Linked DNA regions of Homo sapiens: region 2 is linked to region 1. Evidence: fine-mapped expression QTL. Tissue or cell type: liver. Region 1 holds a variant in brackets; the other region holds the start of a gene. All regions are shown on one strand. Distances are between the middles of the regions. Region 1 has its middle 42 kb from the start of PRICKLE2. Region 2 holds the start of PRICKLE2 (prickle planar cell polarity protein 2).

The links. PIP is the estimated chance that this variant, and not a neighbour inherited with it, causes the effect.
Region 2: PRICKLE2 starts here. The variant in region 1 is fine-mapped to the expression of PRICKLE2 in liver (GTEx, PIP above 0.99).

What each region holds. Positions count from the first base shown.
Region 1 is chr3:64,262,816-64,271,157 of GRCh38, forward strand. It overlaps a transcript of PRICKLE2 not described here. Among named protein-coding and RNA genes, the nearest start is that of PRICKLE2, 42 kb to the left of the region's middle. The variant T/C (reference allele first, on the strand shown) is at 4,312.
Region 2 is chr3:64,221,330-64,229,671 of GRCh38, forward strand. PRICKLE2 (prickle planar cell polarity protein 2) reads right to left here and starts at 4,137. Exons shown (of 8, transcript NM_198859.4): 1 at 3,581-4,137. RefSeq lists a silencer at 4,024-4,318.

The DNA.
Region 1 (8,342 bases):
ATAGGGTAGGTGTCCCAATTATTTCCATTTTGCAGACAAGGAAACTGAGGTTCAGAGATGTAAATGACTTGTCCCATTGCTAATAAGTGGTGGAGCCACCGTTTTGAAGTTTAACAGCTTCCCCCAAGTGTGTTCTGTGGCACATTAAGAGGTGAGGCTGAAAGGGGGTTCCAGGGTCACATTAGCACAGAACATGCAACATCAAGCCTCAATGGGTTTCTCTACTCCAGGCCTTCTCATAGCCTTTGAATTGTGATGGCTCAAGAGGGAGATGTAAAACATCGTATGTTCCACGCACACATGGCGCCTTTTTTTGTTTTCTTTTTTAGAAGAGCAATTCACCAAACAGGTATTCCCAATATCACAGTAAGAGAACCACTGCTAGAAGGCAACATGAGTAAGTTTTCAAAATGTGTTTAAACAAAGTCCAAAGTGCCTTCTTGGACATTACATCACTTGTACCCGAAGGAGAAAGGGTCGACATGAACATACCATTTTACAGATAATGAAGCTGAAGCTCATGAGGTTAAGTGGTCTGTCCTGTATCCACAATTCTGCAGCAATTAAGCAAGAAAAATCATTCCTGGTCCATGTGCCCCAAAGACTAGGAGAAATCAGGTCAGGCCAAGGGAGAATCAGGCAAGAAGCTTAAATGAGGCTTTGTTCAGTCTCTGCCTCTCCTCTTTACAATATTCCCTTTGAGTTCACTTTCCACAGGATTACACTCAGAATGGGGGGATATACAGAGAATGCAGGAAGGGCTGCAAGTGAGCTCAGGCCTTGAGCATTAGGAAATGGCTTCAACTTTCTGGGGCTGTGTAGGGTGAGGTCTTGTGAAAGGATCCTGTGGGAGGCATTATGGATTGGAGGCAAGAAAGTGGCACCTACATCCAGGTAGAAAGGGCCCTTGATGGAAACATAACTGTCTTAAGAATTCCAAAAGCTGCAGGAATTAAAAGCACTTCACAGTCAATCAGCCTTATCTTGGGTCATCTTGGTTCAGAACTTAAAGAACCCAAGGCAAATGAGCTGAACACTCCTCAAGTTGTTGCCACGAGGGCCTCTGCCCCATGTGGTCTCCCTCAATTCCATCACAGTGGATTGTCTAAATGGGGACCTCATGGACTGCTGTCTACAGAATGCCAGCATCCTAGAGAAGCAGGCTTCGGCAGAGTGGCGGCAGGGCAGTGGGAAGGGTGGTTACTGAGTATAAATTATAAAGAGAAGACCGCCCACCCCACCCCCCACTCCACAACCCGCCAACAATCCACCAAGAGCAAATGCTTGAGAGCACAGGCTGCATTTAAGAAGCATCCCAGGTAGATGCTTGGAATTAGACAGTTGTAGGTCCAGGTCCCCCGCATGGCCACTTGGTAGCCTTGTGTCTCAGGGGAGTTACCAAACCTCTTTGAGCTTATCCTTCATCATCTGTGAAATAGGCTGGCTGATGGCACCAACCCTCATAGGGTTGTCGTAAGGGTTTTTCAGTAATAAAGAGCAAACAGCGACGTGCTTCTCAAGATAAAGTCCAGAGTTCCACCTGGATATTTCTTAAATGCAGATTTCCAGGTCATACTACAGACCTATGAAATAGACTCCCTGAAGGATATCCCTATGCACTATAAAGTCTGAGAAAGACTGGTAAGACGTTAAGTCTGTGCTTGGCAAAAGCTCAGTAAGTTAACAGGCATCATTCTGTTTACTGATGTTATCATTTATAATATGGCAAGATGAGACCTCTTCTCCAGCCTGGACAACTTAGTGTTCAAAATTAGAATTTATCTAACATCCAACTCAACAGATGTTTGCTTATCCCCAGAAGCCTGAACAGAGCCTCAATCATCAGAAAATATAAAACAAAACCAGTGACTAATTACAGCAGCCTGGGTGAATGCAGAGTAACCTTTTGCAAATGTTCCCAAGAGATCAAATAGTAGCTGTTTTAAAGAAAAAGTAGTAAGAAGCAACCTTTGAAAGATGTGATAAGCAATGTCACGTATACGCTCCCTGTGGATTGGCATCTTGCCTGGGAAGATGCTTTGTGAAGAGGGAGAGACCCTAGTGATAGGTACAAGGATTTCTCTACACAGGCTGGCTGTTAAAAGTCAAATATGAAGCAATTCTCAAAGGCCTCTGGGCTAATCTTGCAGGGAGATCATTCATGAGTTTTCCCAGACATTGAGTCCCACAGTACCTGCGTCTGTTCCCTCCGCTACCCCTACATCTTCCATTCTTCTGGAAGTTGTCCAGATTACAATCTTTGCAAAAATGAGCCTTCCTTTGCTGGTCACACAGAGGAGCAGGATATGAAAAAACATCACCAACAAAACAAAACAAAGCAAAAAGAAAAACAAAAAACAAACAAACAAAAAAAACTGAATGGCAATCAAATGCTAAGTATCCCAGAAAAGAATTCCTCACCATTCAGATTTTGAGAAAATAAAAAATATCAAAGAAACTTTTTTGGAACATCACATTTAAACCTCAATACAATTTCCATAAAGTCTCATTATATTCAACTAGGATTACCATTCTGTGTTTTAGTAGCTAAAAAAAATCATTCCCTCTGCTTCCTCTCATTGACATCAGAATATCGCACAGAGTTTATATTCACCTAGCGCTCTCCTACTTTATGATAGTGATAGGAAGTGCTTAATGTGACTGAGTACTTTTCAGGAAAGATTAAGAAAAACAGCCTGGGGAGCACAGCATCTCTGAGATTTGGTTTTCTAAATTATTTTTAAAAACCCACAGATCTCTGCATACACAGCTACACAAAGCAGCACGCATGTCCCTCAGTTGCCTCTTACCGTCTTTTCATTGCCCATTTTCTATATTGTTGATGTACTTCAGGGCAAACCCAACACAAGACCACTTAGCCTGCTCTGCAAACAGCTCCACAAAGACCATAAATGTCACCACCAAATTGGTGAGTGCTAGTTCAAACCTTTGCACCTCTCATTCCTCGACACATCTGTGTCCCTAAGGATAACAATTCTGGCTTAAAAGAAATCTTGGGAAAAGAAGCCAAGAGTTTTTCCTGTTGAAGCTAAGTGGGAGGAGGCTAGTGGGGAAGTGGGCTCGATAAAACTGTCTCAAAAATAAGTTCCATCTTAAGCTCACAGAGGGAATGAGAGAGTTATTTCAGTTTCTTAAATGGAAGTACAACCCCGAAAATAAAAAATAAAAGGCTTGTTGATGCAGAGGCTTGAAAGCCTGTGTGAGATTGAGGGTATCACTGAGGAAAGACTGCCTTGTAACAGAGCTTTCTTGTATTACACCCAAAGCTGTGTACCATCTGAGGCTGATTCAGGAAAATACTCAAATCTCCTGGTAATTTCCTGCAGACAGGACGTTTAATCATCTCCAAGCCTCCACCGCAAAAGAAAAAAAAAAAAGCTAAACCAAATGATTCACACTCTTAAAACGAATCTGCCTTCAGAAGAAGAACGGTTTTCTGGTCTTGAAAAGCAGCCACAATTTGTTATTCTAACAAAGTGTTCCTTTCCTCCAAACAGAAATAAAAGTTGCTCAAGGAGGGCTTGTCCTGATTTCTGTTCTGCATTTCTTGAAACTTCCATCCAGTCAACAGTTTCTCCTGGCAGGTTCTCAGAAATCCAGAGAGAGCTGGGTAGTCAGTGACTAAGAACACAGGATCATTTTTATATGCCTCCCTAACCCCCACTTTTTGGCCCCATGGGAAGATGCTTTATTGTAGGATGAGCAGAATCAGCTGCATATATAAATTCTTCACTGCCCAGCTCACTTGACACCTTTATCTGAATTGCCCAACAGGCTGGGAAGATTTGGCAATTGATGATTTGAAAAGGAAAGGCCCAGATCTTCCCCAAGTGGTATTTGTTCTGTCTGTACAGACAGGGCCATGTCCATGTCTCTAATTACTCAACTAGCTGCACAGATAAAAACATTTGCGTACAGAAAGCAGGGAACTCAAAGTATACAAATGATTCACACCACCTAAACAACTGCAAATAAAGGCCGGCCCAGCAAAATAAGGGCTTCTAGAAGCCAAAATAATTTAATATGGGCGGAAATGGAATTTGGCAATCCACACATCAGACTCTGCTCCAATTTTGGAAGGCATGTCTTCCAGCTGCCTCATCTTAAAAAAAAAAAAAAGTAAACTGACCCTCTGCATTCGATTCTCAACCTCTTGCTTAGGTACACACAAGTGAACAGATGGGTGGGGGGAGCTGAAACCTCATCTTTTAAATCTTACCCAGCACCTACCCACAATCTTTCCTGATTATTTTGGTTTTAAAATTTCCCAGGGCACGGCTGCCCAGGCAC[T/C]CCAGATTTGTAATCCCAACCTTCACCAAGTCCTGACTCTTCCAGCATCTGAGAGGGTGCATTTGGCAACTTGGAAAGTAAGAATTAACTCTCTCATCTCCAAACTATACACTCCCCCATGTAGAGCTAGGAAGGGCTAGGAGAAGGGCCCTCTCCACCTACCCCAATTCAGAAAGAACACATTAACAAATCCAGAGTTGCTTCATTACCGAAGTCCACCAAGAAGCAAAGAAATGGATTTTTAAAGTTCTGGGAAAATAAACAACTTTTATCTTTTCGGGGATATAAGCTCAAAATATAAAGGTATGTGGGAAGAAGTAAGTCATGTTTTAAAGTAGATCTTCCTGGAGATGTTAAGAAATATTTTGAATAGAAAATAACTAGGTCATTAACAGTAAATACCTTTTAAATATTTAGGGGAAAATGAATTCTAAGAGAATAAAGGCTATTTAAAAAGCAAGTCCAGGGATGTTTTCATGTTCCCTCTTAAGTAGTCCTAATACAATAATACCACCATCGCCTCGTGATATTATGATTACCATTGCTGGTTAATAAAGTGGCTGCGCGAAAGGTGGCTGACACTCAGACCCTCAGTTCACCAGGTCCCCACCGCGGGGCTCCTGACTTCCCAGCGTCTGGGTGGCAAAGCGCATCTCTCCCAGAGCTTAGTTTCCAGCTGCAAGGCCCCTTTTTCAGGGGAGCTCCTGAAACCAGGAGCAAACATGCCCCTGCGCCGCCCTCTGTGCTCCCCGGCTATGGGGGGGCCACTTACCCGGCTTAGCCTTGCATTGCTCCGACGCTGCGGCGCCTCTGCCGGCCCGGGAAACTGCGGGGGAGCCGGGGAAAGGGGGTTGGAGACCCAGGGGCAGGGGTAGCGGCCGCAGCTAAGGAACCCAGCGGGGCGTCGGCAGCCAACTGCCCGGAGCCGAAGGGGGCCCTGCAGGGGCTCCGCACAAGGCAGGTAACATTCCTGGGGCGGCAGCTGCTCTGTGCGCAGCTCCGGATCCAGGAAAATCGCTCAGGTCCTGGGGAGAGGAGCTCCAAGCTCTCTGGGCTGCCTCCCGGCTGCTTAAAGGGACACCTCCCCACCTCCCACTCAGCTTATTGGTGAAAATCTCGAGCCACAGGCCAATCCTAGGCCTGTTCCCAAATTGAGATTTCAATCAAGGGAGCTACTACTTTAAAATTAGAAAGGGCTAATGGAGTGCTGAGCCACCTTTCAAAAGCAGAAGGACACAGGCTCTCTGGCCCTCACACCAGAGGTCCTGAGAGCTGGCAGTGGCTGGAAGAGAAAGATTCGACTGTGCCACGCACACAAGGAACAGGGGGCATGCTGGAATCCTAGGCTTCACCCCTCCTGTGCCCCCCTCAACCCACTGCTGTCCTTCAAGGCTCATCCAGTTTATCACAGACACTGGAGGCCTTCGTGGCTCTCTGCTCTTGGTGCTCCTAAAGCCTTTGCTTATGTCTCTTTTCAGCCACTCATCACATTTTCACTTTTTTGCTTAATCTGTCACTCCCTTTACACTGTAAATTCTACCTAGGTAGGAATGTTTTTATCAAGACATATCACTCCCTACCTGGAACGTCGTGAGCTCTCAGTAAATGTTTGTTTATTGATTGAATGAATGAATACACAAAAGAATGAACAATGGAAATATGTCCCATGTTGGCTATGCCAGTACAATTGTTAATTAAGAGAGTAGTCAAAAGGCCAGGCATTAATTTCACACAAAACTGTGTTCATATATGGACTCTCCCTCTTACAGGTAGGTAACCTGCATTTTAGTTTCCTTGTCTGTAAAGCATGATCATGAAATTTACCATCTCATAGGGTTGTAGTAAAGATTGCATGAGCTCATGTTTAGTCCAGAGGAGGCACTCAGTCAATAACCTCGGACAACTGAACAGTCAATAGCTGTTGTTATCACTGCAATTAAAATACATTTGCTGGAGATTTGGACTGAGTCTGACTGCTGATCTGACTTTGTAGTGAGCACAGTTATTAATGAAACAAACGTGAGTTAAGTGCCAGCTCAGTGCCAGGCCCCATGCCAGGTACTAGGATCATCAATGAAAGATAAAGTCCTTGACCACAAGTAACCCATAGTGGTGGCAGGCGGAGGAGGGGAGAGAAGGAAACAGACGAAGTGAATTATGCTAAATGATATACAAGCAAAGACATATGTAAAGGAATGTTTATTGTAGGATAGTTTATAAGATCAAAATAACTGAAAACATAATTATCCAATAATACAGGACGTTAGTAAATTATGATACATCCATATGATAGAATACTATACAGTCATGAGAAAGAAGAGGAAGAACTAAGTGCACCAGTATGCACTGAGCTCCTCAATACATTGCTAAGTACAGTGCAGATAGTAAAACATATTTCTGCTTGCACAAAACATCTTCATGTATTACGTATGTGCACATACATATGCTGTATATGCAAAAAGTACTTCTAGAACCATGCCTAAGAAAATGATAAAGGTTGTTGTTACTGACAAGGTGATTTGAGGCCTAGGCAGATCTAAGAGGATAAGGACACTAACGTTTCATCATATGTCCTTGTATATTATTTGAACCTTTTACCATGAGCTTGTAACAAGGTCCTGGTTCTGGCAAAATGGCAAATGATGACAACCTGAAAATTCCAACTCTTCAAATACCTAGACATGCTAGATAAAATATAACAAAAATTATTTTAAATGCCTAGCTGACTCACAATAAAGAAAGGAAGGCTGGGCACGATGGCTCACACCTGTAATCCCAACACTTTGGAAGGCCACACCAGGAGGATCATTGAAGCCGTGAGTTCAATATCAGACTTGGCAACATAGCAAGACACCATCTCTACACAAAATAAAAAACTAACTGGTTGCAGTGGTGTGCACCTGTAGTCCTAGCTACTTAGGAGGCTGAGGTGGTTGGTTCGGCCCAGGAATTCAGGGCCACATTGAGCCATGAGGGCACCAATCTACTTCAACCTGGGTGACAGCATGAGACCTTACATAAAACAAAAAAAAACAAAAAAAACAAAAAAAAAACCACAGGAAAATACCAAGAAATAAAGAGGTAATTAAAAACAAGAGTAAGAAGCATGCAAAGTTATGCTGTGGCTATGAGAGAGAGGGAAGAGTGGTTGGTGGCAGACAAAAGGGTTGTCTTGGTTCCCTAGGGGCTAGGATTGTAATGCCCACACAGGAGACAGACAGTGCCTTGGGACAAAGAGAAGCAGGAAGCTGTTACAAGACCTTTGTAGAAAGCCAAAAATATTCACTGAGGGCTGCACCTTCAATGAACAAATAGATTGGAAAAATTGACAACCACCTAGGTAAAACTTGTCTGTCTCTACCTGTATTGTGGGTGAGAGGGAAATGTTTTAACTGAGAATGAGAAATCCTAGGGCTGTGCCTTTCATGAGATTCTAGGAATAACAAAAGTCAAAATCAGGAAGCTCTGACTAAAAAAATTAATATTAAAATTAGTCCTGTTCGTGACATGCCAGGAATGCCTTATAGAAACAAATGAAGATTTCTCTGGCCACTTCTACAACCCAGGCTACAACCAATCCCACAAGCATGAGATCCCAACGGTAAATTATACAACATCCAAGAAACTGATGTTACAAGTCAACAAATAAAAGAATAAGAGGCTCAAGAATTACAGGTCATAAAACAATTGACATTCTGAAAAGAAACATGGAATGAGAAAGTTTATAAGGATTTAAAACACTGAAGCTAAAATTGAAACCCTTAAAAAGAACAAGACATGATGACTACTCCTCTCCATAGATCCACTAAAATTAAAAACTCAAAGGACAGGTTAAATAGATACTAGTAAAGCAAGAAACGTAGATCTCACGACACTACACAAATAAAGCACAAAAGGATAAAGAGTTGAAAAATATCTGAGAGATAAAGAGATATGGAGAATATAATGAGAAGGCCCAACGTCTGTGTAATAGGACTCCCATAGGGAGAGACCAGAGAAATCAGGAAGAACCAATAACTGAAGATATGATG
Region 2 (8,342 bases), 41 kb before region 1:
TCAGACAATAGGCCAAAGAAAAAAGAAAACGAAGTCTCCAAACTCGACTGACTCAATCCCCAAAAGAGATCTTCACCCCTGCTTGATTCATACACACACACACACACACACACACACACACACACACACGCACACACACAGCATAAAAACCAGAACATTTCATTTTAAATGTTTACAGGTTAAGACAGAGCAAAGGGGCAAATGTCACTCAAAAGCATCAACAAAGAAAACAGATTTGGCCAATATCTCATCCTCAAGCTTCTTAGTTTGCAAATAGCTCATGGTCACCAGCAGTTCCCTGTTTATAAGCACCACAGTCATGGAGGGAATGAACAGAGAAAGGTTTCAGTGGATCTTTAAGCACAAAAGAAAGTCTTTATCCAATTGCCACCCAGAATTCCTATCTGAGGGACAGAGCCTTTTGACTCTTGTGTGCTTACAGACAGCACAGAAGAAATGACCACAGCCTGGGGGCTACTAAATAAAGAGGTTTCTGCTAATTCGAGGCAGGCAGTGCAGTTGGGTCATTGAGCCCTTCTCAAATTCAGAGTGTTTGGAACTGATGTTTATTAAAAGAAGCACTAGACGGGTACCACGGTTTGTCATCTGCTATGTCATTTTACTTGGATTTCCCAAATACCTTGTTGTTATTGATTTCTAATTTAATTCTATTGGCCTTCAGTTTCTCCGTTAAATAAATATTAAAATTACTGCCCCCTGTTGTTCACAGATCGGGATTAACTGGGAAATATGCTCAACATCCAGTCAGTACCAGGAATTGGGCAAGGGCATTATAGCCGCTATCTTCACAGCAATCCCATGCATTCAGGGGACTTTATTTCCAATATTCATATGAGGAAGCCAAAGTTCAGAGAGGTCAGGCAACTCTCCTGAGATCATACCTCCCATCAGGAAGTAAGGGAGGTGGGCTGTGGTTAAGGTATAAATATTATTCTCCGTGCAAAACACAACTCTACTAAAGATCAGTAGCAACCAGGAACGACCAACTCCCAGTTCCGAGTTTCTTGGGAAAGAATTTTATGGCAGACTCCTCTCACTCTTGTAATTCACTTTTGTCTTTCAGATCCCTGTGTCAGAGTTCTAATTCCCCAAAATTAAAAAGAAAGATCTTGGGAGGAAAGGGAGAAACAGCAGTCCACTTGTGTGACAGAAGTAGGCCCACCGGCATGAAGGAGGCAGACCACGAGCCTGGCAAAATTGTGCCATAGCAGTGACACAAAACAAAAGCAGACAGACTGGGCCATGGTAGGCAGGCAGGCAGGGGAGGGCTATTCCTTTCCCTTAGCAGCCAACCCATAAGCTGAAGGCACCCAGATGGTGGCAAAAATTCAGCCTTGGAACTTCTGAGGAGCCAACCAGCAGGTTAAGCACATATTCAATGGCCTCCCTGGATAGAGAAGAAAATGCTCAATATCTGCACTGAAAAGAATTAAGAAAGAAAAGGACTGTCTCTCACATGCATAGGTGAAGCAGAAGAGAAATCTAGAAATGCATTGATTCCAACTGGGACCCCGCAGCTTTCTACATGTGACTTGTCAGCTGCCAAAACAGGATGCCTTCTTTAAGGCTGCCTAAGCCCCAGTTAGTTCTAAATGATTTTCATTATACCAGCTGGTCACTTTCAGTTCTGTGAAATACAGTAGTTCTGGATAATATACTTTATTCTGTCAACTCAATCAATAGGGTGGAAAGTTTCTTTGAGTGGGAATCATTTGGATATAACAGTACCAGAGATGGCATCTTTTCTGCTAGCAAAACCTTTCTGCAGGCAAATGGATGTGAACATGTTGCCTTTTCAATACTGTTTTTTAGCAACAACACTTATAATGATAATGACAAAATGGTAACAATGACAACAACAACAACAACAATAGCAGCTAATATTTACTGAATATTTACTATGTGGCTGCCACTGTGCTCTGCATAGGTCATCTCATTAAATCCTTACACCTATCACCCTAACTATAGATTCCATTGCTCTCTCCACTTTACTGGCAGGAATGGGTAGCTTTAAGTATCTTCAGCTCTTTCCAGCTCCAGAGTCTGAGCCCTGGATAAATATCATCTCATACTATCTAACCTCTAAGTTCCCTTCTCATTCTTTAAGCTTCCATAAATGCATCTTTCTTCCTCTATTTCTATTTTATTCCCTCACATTTCATGGGTAAATCTTTATAAACACACCATTTCAAACAATGCTATTTTACTCTTTCTGGCTGCCCCGTGAATCTTTATAGACTGAGATGCCCGATGGAGCCAGTATGTTTTAATTTTCACATGAAAAACAGAATTCCCAAGGGGAAGGAGCATTTGATGGAAAGGCAAAACCTTTATAAGCACTCAAGGCATTAAAATCCAAATTTCCAAAATATGGTAATTATGTCAAAGTTGTGACTTACTCTGGAGCCCTTGGGGACCCTCATCCTGACCCATCTGTGAAAGCCATCAGCAGGCAGTAAGCCTTCTGAGGAGCAGGATTACAGCAGCCAATTTGGCCTCTAGCAAAGAGGCAAGGCTGCTTCATTTAGTTTAAGTCTCACTGAGATGGTTTAAAACACTCTTTGGGAAGAGATGTGCAGGCAAAGCAAATCACAGCCTTACCAGCTGCAGATTCAGTACACGGCAGTCTATGTCTACATATTCATGGCACACTGGAGCCCTCCCCTGACTGTGCTCATACATGCATTGATATGGGAAGCAGAACTCTCTCACTGGGGAAATAATCTATGTGCCTAAGTTAGACAAGAGCCACATTTGGACCAGCGGATGGCATCACATCTGGTATGGATCGCTAACCTCAGTGTGATTTGGCCCAGCCTGGATTATTTATGATTCATAAAAGTCCCACTGGACCCCAGCATAGTCCAAGACCACATAACAAAAAACCATGGGATTAAAAATCTGTATTTCATTGCAAGACCCCCATGGCAAATTAGTAATGCTATGATTGGTTTTCGAGAAGCCAAGAGTGAGGAGAACTAACTATGATCACTCCCTCAAGAAACCCAGCATAGAGGGCAAACCGAATCATGTGTTCAGCCAGGCTATGCAGTCATATTCTGAAGCTCTGTCACCATTTCTAATCTGAAAGCAGTGTCTAAAATTAAACCTAAATAATTTGAAAGCCATTTCTTTACCTGGAAGTCTCAGCTGAGTCCTTGTTCCTCAGATCCCCTAATGGTTTCTGACATCATGTGTTGAAATGACTACTGTACATGAACGCTATCAGGTATTTGGTCTGTTAGCCCCTTTCCCCATATTATTATGGTTTTTTAAAGAAAGCTACACTTTTAGAGAAACGCTGCTTCTTCTTAAGCATCAAGATTTAAGCGTTTCTTCAGGACTCCCTAGAGCTGTGACATAACACTTTGTAATCGAGCTTTCTAATCAGCATAGAAAAGGCAAAAGGGGTCGCAGGGCCACCAAAAATGCTACCTGGCCAAGAAAACGAAGACCCAATATCCTCCCCCAGTGCAAAGGCCCTAGATCTGGCTTTCTCATCCTCCTTAGAAAATATACTGCTGTTTAATTTGTGAATTAGAGCAAATTTCTTACCCACCTCCAGGGAGGATGAAATGCCCAGTCTCGGAGGAAGCTTCTGCCAGACCCTTGGAGCTTGTCAATTGTCCCAGTTCACTTTCTCCCTGGATCTGACTTCTAAGAACGCAAGCAGGACCTCAGGCAGCCAAAGCATCTTCTCCTCAAACCCCCTTTTCAGTCTGAACCCTTCCTGAAGCTGGCAACAGACTCAAGCCGAGCTGCTCCACATTCCCTCAGGGAAAACAGCACTGCTGGATCCAGACTCTGCTGGGGAATTCACCAAGCAAGAGAAAAAAAGTATGACTTCTACTCTTCCTCTAGATCAGCCTGAGTGCTCAGATCGCCTTCCGGAGGACCCCCAGTTTCCTCTTAACTCCCCTTCTTCATGACAATCTGAAGGAAGAAGTCATAGACTCCAGCCCAGCGTCACCAGCTGATCCTGAGCCAGACCCGGGGTGACTAGTCAGCTGCTCACAGAGCTCAAGCCACTGAACCAGGAAATGTGCTGCTTGGTCAAAAAATAATAATAACTCTCGGTGGCGCTGCTGGTGGTGCCTGAGAAGTCGCTGTTGCAGTGCTTGCATCCTCCGCATGCTAATGAAGCTGTGATGTCAGCAAGTCAGTCACGGCATCTGGACGTCCCATCCTGCTGCCCAGTGCTGAGATTTATTTACATGTAAATTAGCCTTGCCTTCCAAATCAATAATCCCCAAGCCAGGGAGAGGGGAAGGAAGCCTTTGCTGGATGCAAAGGCCCAGCTACGTAACCTCCAAATGAGCATGAAAAAAATCACATATAAGAAGAGAGGCTTTAAAGACACATGCCTATTTTTTTTCTTCTTAAAAGCTGTGCTCTTAGGTGCCAAGGTTCAGATCTGGGCACAATTATCAACCTGAGCGCCTGTTTCAGATTATATGCTGCACCAACCTAGGAGTGGAATCAGAGCACTCTTTTTTTAATTAAATGCTGTGTCAAGCCTTCAAAAATGCCTCTCCTTTTTTTTTTTCTTTCTCTTCTCTCTTCAACTTTCATTTTCGGGTGTTGCTTGTTTTTTGGCCTGAGACTATGTCACCTTTGAGTTTTTGTGCACCTCGAAATAAAGCACAAGTGACTCCTTTCCTCACGTGCTTGGGTGGTGAGTCAGTCAGCTGCCCTTTAACCCCTTACCCCAATTCCAACTGCATGCAGAAGAAGACAAAGCATAAACCTTCCCAGGGCATCTGAAGACCCTGAGACCCTCAGAGAGCATTGCTTCCATCTCCTCATTTTACAGATTAGAAAATGGAGACAACTGGAGAAAGGACTTTTCTAAAGTCACACCAGGATTTCAGCAAGGATGGGTCAGAATCCACATTTCCTAGACCTCAGATAGAGCTTTTGTTGAATACCTTTGGGGTCTCCGAGCTCCATTTTTATACACCACTAGGCGGCCTAACCAAGCAATCTGGAAGAAAGGAATCTATACATTTGGAGAGCCCTGTGTTCAAATCCTGCCTTTCCTTCCTGCTAGCAGTGTGATCTTAGGCAAGTAACTTAACTTGTGGGATCTTCAATAACCTCATCTGTACCATTCACTCATTCAATAAATATTTACTAAGCACGTACTCTATGCCATGCACAGCTCTAAAGGCTAGGTATAAACACAGTCTCTGCTTTCAAGGGCCTTATGGGCTACTGCAATTAAAGAAAGTAAAATATTGAATAGAACTATGGTGAAGATTAACACAATATCACATACTCAATAGCTATTTCTGATATTTTGAATGAAGTTAGAAAAATTCACCGAGGCATACTATCTACTAGGCTGATCACTGTTCCTAGCATCTGAGTATTTCCATGGTCATCTTTAATTGTTTAAAATCATATATTCCTTCAATGCTGCCTGTGCAGTATCCCGGGCCAGGAGAGAGGCAAGAGCCAGGCAATATTCTGGACTCTGTGCCTGTGATAAGGAAGCACTGTGAGTGAAAGTAAAGGGTGAGGGAAAGGTTGGGGAGGCTGGGAGGGAGGAATATTCCATCATGCACAGAAGTGTCCCAAAGGACAAAGCAGCTAGCACGGCTCCTTGCCCACACTCCCCCGCCTGGGGAACCCACTCTGATGAGCTCTGCCCTTCCAGCTGCAGTTCCTGAAGCTTCAAATGAATTTCTTTGTTGGATGTGGGGAAGTTAAATTATGTCTTTTGTTGTATGTAATTGTATTAATAATGCTTAATAACTTCTTTCAGAATGCTTCTCTCTAGTTCCCAGAAGACCTTTCATGGTGAAAATCATGAGACCTGGAATAACTTCTCAGTAAGAGAAATAAAATACAAGCAAATGAATAACACTCAGCCTTCAGTTTCCATCACACAGAACTCAGAGCGTGTAGGGAGGCAGATGGTCTCCCCAGACCTCAATATCCTTCAAAAAGTCAATTAGCAAGTCTAACAGTTTGGGGCCCCCAGTAGCCAAGTGGAAGCAGTGACATTCTAACCCAGTGTGGCCACGAACAAGTCACTTCAACTTTCCATGCCTCAGTTTCTTAAAAATGGGTACACTACTCTCTCATCTACTCATGATCAGCATGGTCATATAAGAGGCAATTCACAGGTGATCAACAATGAAATAAAGAAGACAGCTGAAACATAGCAAGAGATTACTCTTCACCTGGAACAGATGTGACACATCACTACCAACTTCATAAGAATTAACATCATAACATGGAGTCTAAAATGGATTGCCTGGGGTCAGACTCTGGCTGTGACACTTGCTAGGTCTATGACTTGAGGCCTGAGGTCCTTATATGTAACCTAGGGCATAATGATAGTGCCTACCTGCATGGGGCCATTGGGAGAATCCAATGAGCATTAATGTGAATCATTTAACACTGAGCCTGTTACATAGCAAACACTCAATAAGTGTTAGCTATTGGTAATATTAATAGAAACAATCATGCTTCCACCATTAACTTCAGCGCAAATTAGTTAAGTAACCAGTTAAAATTCAAAAGGTGGGGAGAAAGCGGTAAAGGGAAGACTGCAAAATCATCTTTATTCCTAGAGCATATCTCAAAGTTCTATCTAATGTGGGTGAGCCACTGATATGCCATTTTCCATATGATACAATACAAATGCTTTGAACTGCTATGAATCTAGGAAATAAAGGAGTAAAAATGACCAAGAGGCGGGCTCCCTCTTCTGAAACTATACACCAGGACAAGACAACTATATTTTTGAGATGAATACATGCTTCACCCATTCATTCATATATCCATTCACTCATTAAATAAGCTCCTACTATTTGCCAGTCACTGTGCTAGGGTCTGGGGACAACATGGTGACCAAGATACACATGGATCCTGCCTTAAAAGAGCTTGGCAATCAGAGAGAAGACAATTAAGTAGGCAATTAGAGTAGAATGGGGTGTGTGTTATGGCAGGAGGCATGCAGAGTCCTCAAAGGCCTAATTGCATTCAAGAGAGGGATGGCACAAAAGCATGCTGCCCAAGTCCTTTTGCCAGCACACGCTCTGTGAGCTCAGCTTGGTGATGAGGAAGCTGGATATCTATGCATCACACTTACACAGAATATTAAAATTACAAAATCCACAGATTGTTAATTCCCTGTGGTCATTATTTTCATCCTGGAGACCATTCTAATGAGGTGTTTTTTTTTTTACAAATTATACTGGTAGGTATTAGAAAAAGTGAGAAAAAACTACTTTAAAAATTTCAGAGACTTAGTAAATAGGAACAAAACTCATATTGTTTTTCTAAAAAACAGTGAAATTCCACATTCATGACAGCAAACTTCATGCGAGTAAAGGCAGGGAAGAACAGGTAATACATATGAGAAACTCAACCAAATGTTTATTAGGGATTTGTGAAGCGGAGGACACTCTTGTCAGGAGACAAGGATGCAACTGTCGACCTTCAGAACTTTCTGTTTAGGTAGAATGATAGGATATTTATACAAATGACCATAATTGCATATAGTATATAGGAAAAAGGACAAGGAAGACAAAATTAATTATGGCAGAGGTGATCAGGAACCAGGAAAAGTATGATCTGGGTCAGGCCCAAGGTCAAAAACGCTTTTACTTTTTTGGAATTAAAAAACAATTTTATAGTGGGGGAAGGCCTTACTAAGCATGACACAAAATCCAGAAGTAGAAAAAGGCTGCAAAAATTTGACCTTAGTCAAATTCACCTTCTGCTAGAGGTGTTCCAGGCAGGAATAAGAACATGAGTAGGAAGGAAAATTATGAACACAAATGCATAATTAAGAGACATCTGCATGGACACAAGACAGCAAAACAGCAGCAACATGACACTGGCAGGTAATAACAAAGAGACAGCTCCATGCATGCTGGAAAATCAAATCATCTTTCCATTCTAGCCAGCTTTAGGCAGCATCTTGTTAGAGGATTACAGGGAAAGGTCAAGTACATCTCTACTGGTCAGGTTACAGAAGGGAAGGGTAAGTGACAGGAAGGGTGGTAGCCTCCTAGATGAAGAGCTGTAATGAGGAAGGCTGCAATGAACAAGTTTTAAATCTCTGTTTCTACAGGTATAAAATAAGAAGGAATGGATTTAAACGACCTAAAGAGGGTCCTAAATTCCTCTTTAGGTCATTTAAAATCTTTCTTGGACCTAAGGAAGACTTCTGAATATTGAGATAAGAACTGACATGGGTCACTCAAGGAAATGGCAGTGTTTCAGTTTTTGGAGAACTTTAAAAAGACAGACATCACTCATCCTAGCTCATTTAGATTACTACCTTCTGGCCCTGCTATTGGGAA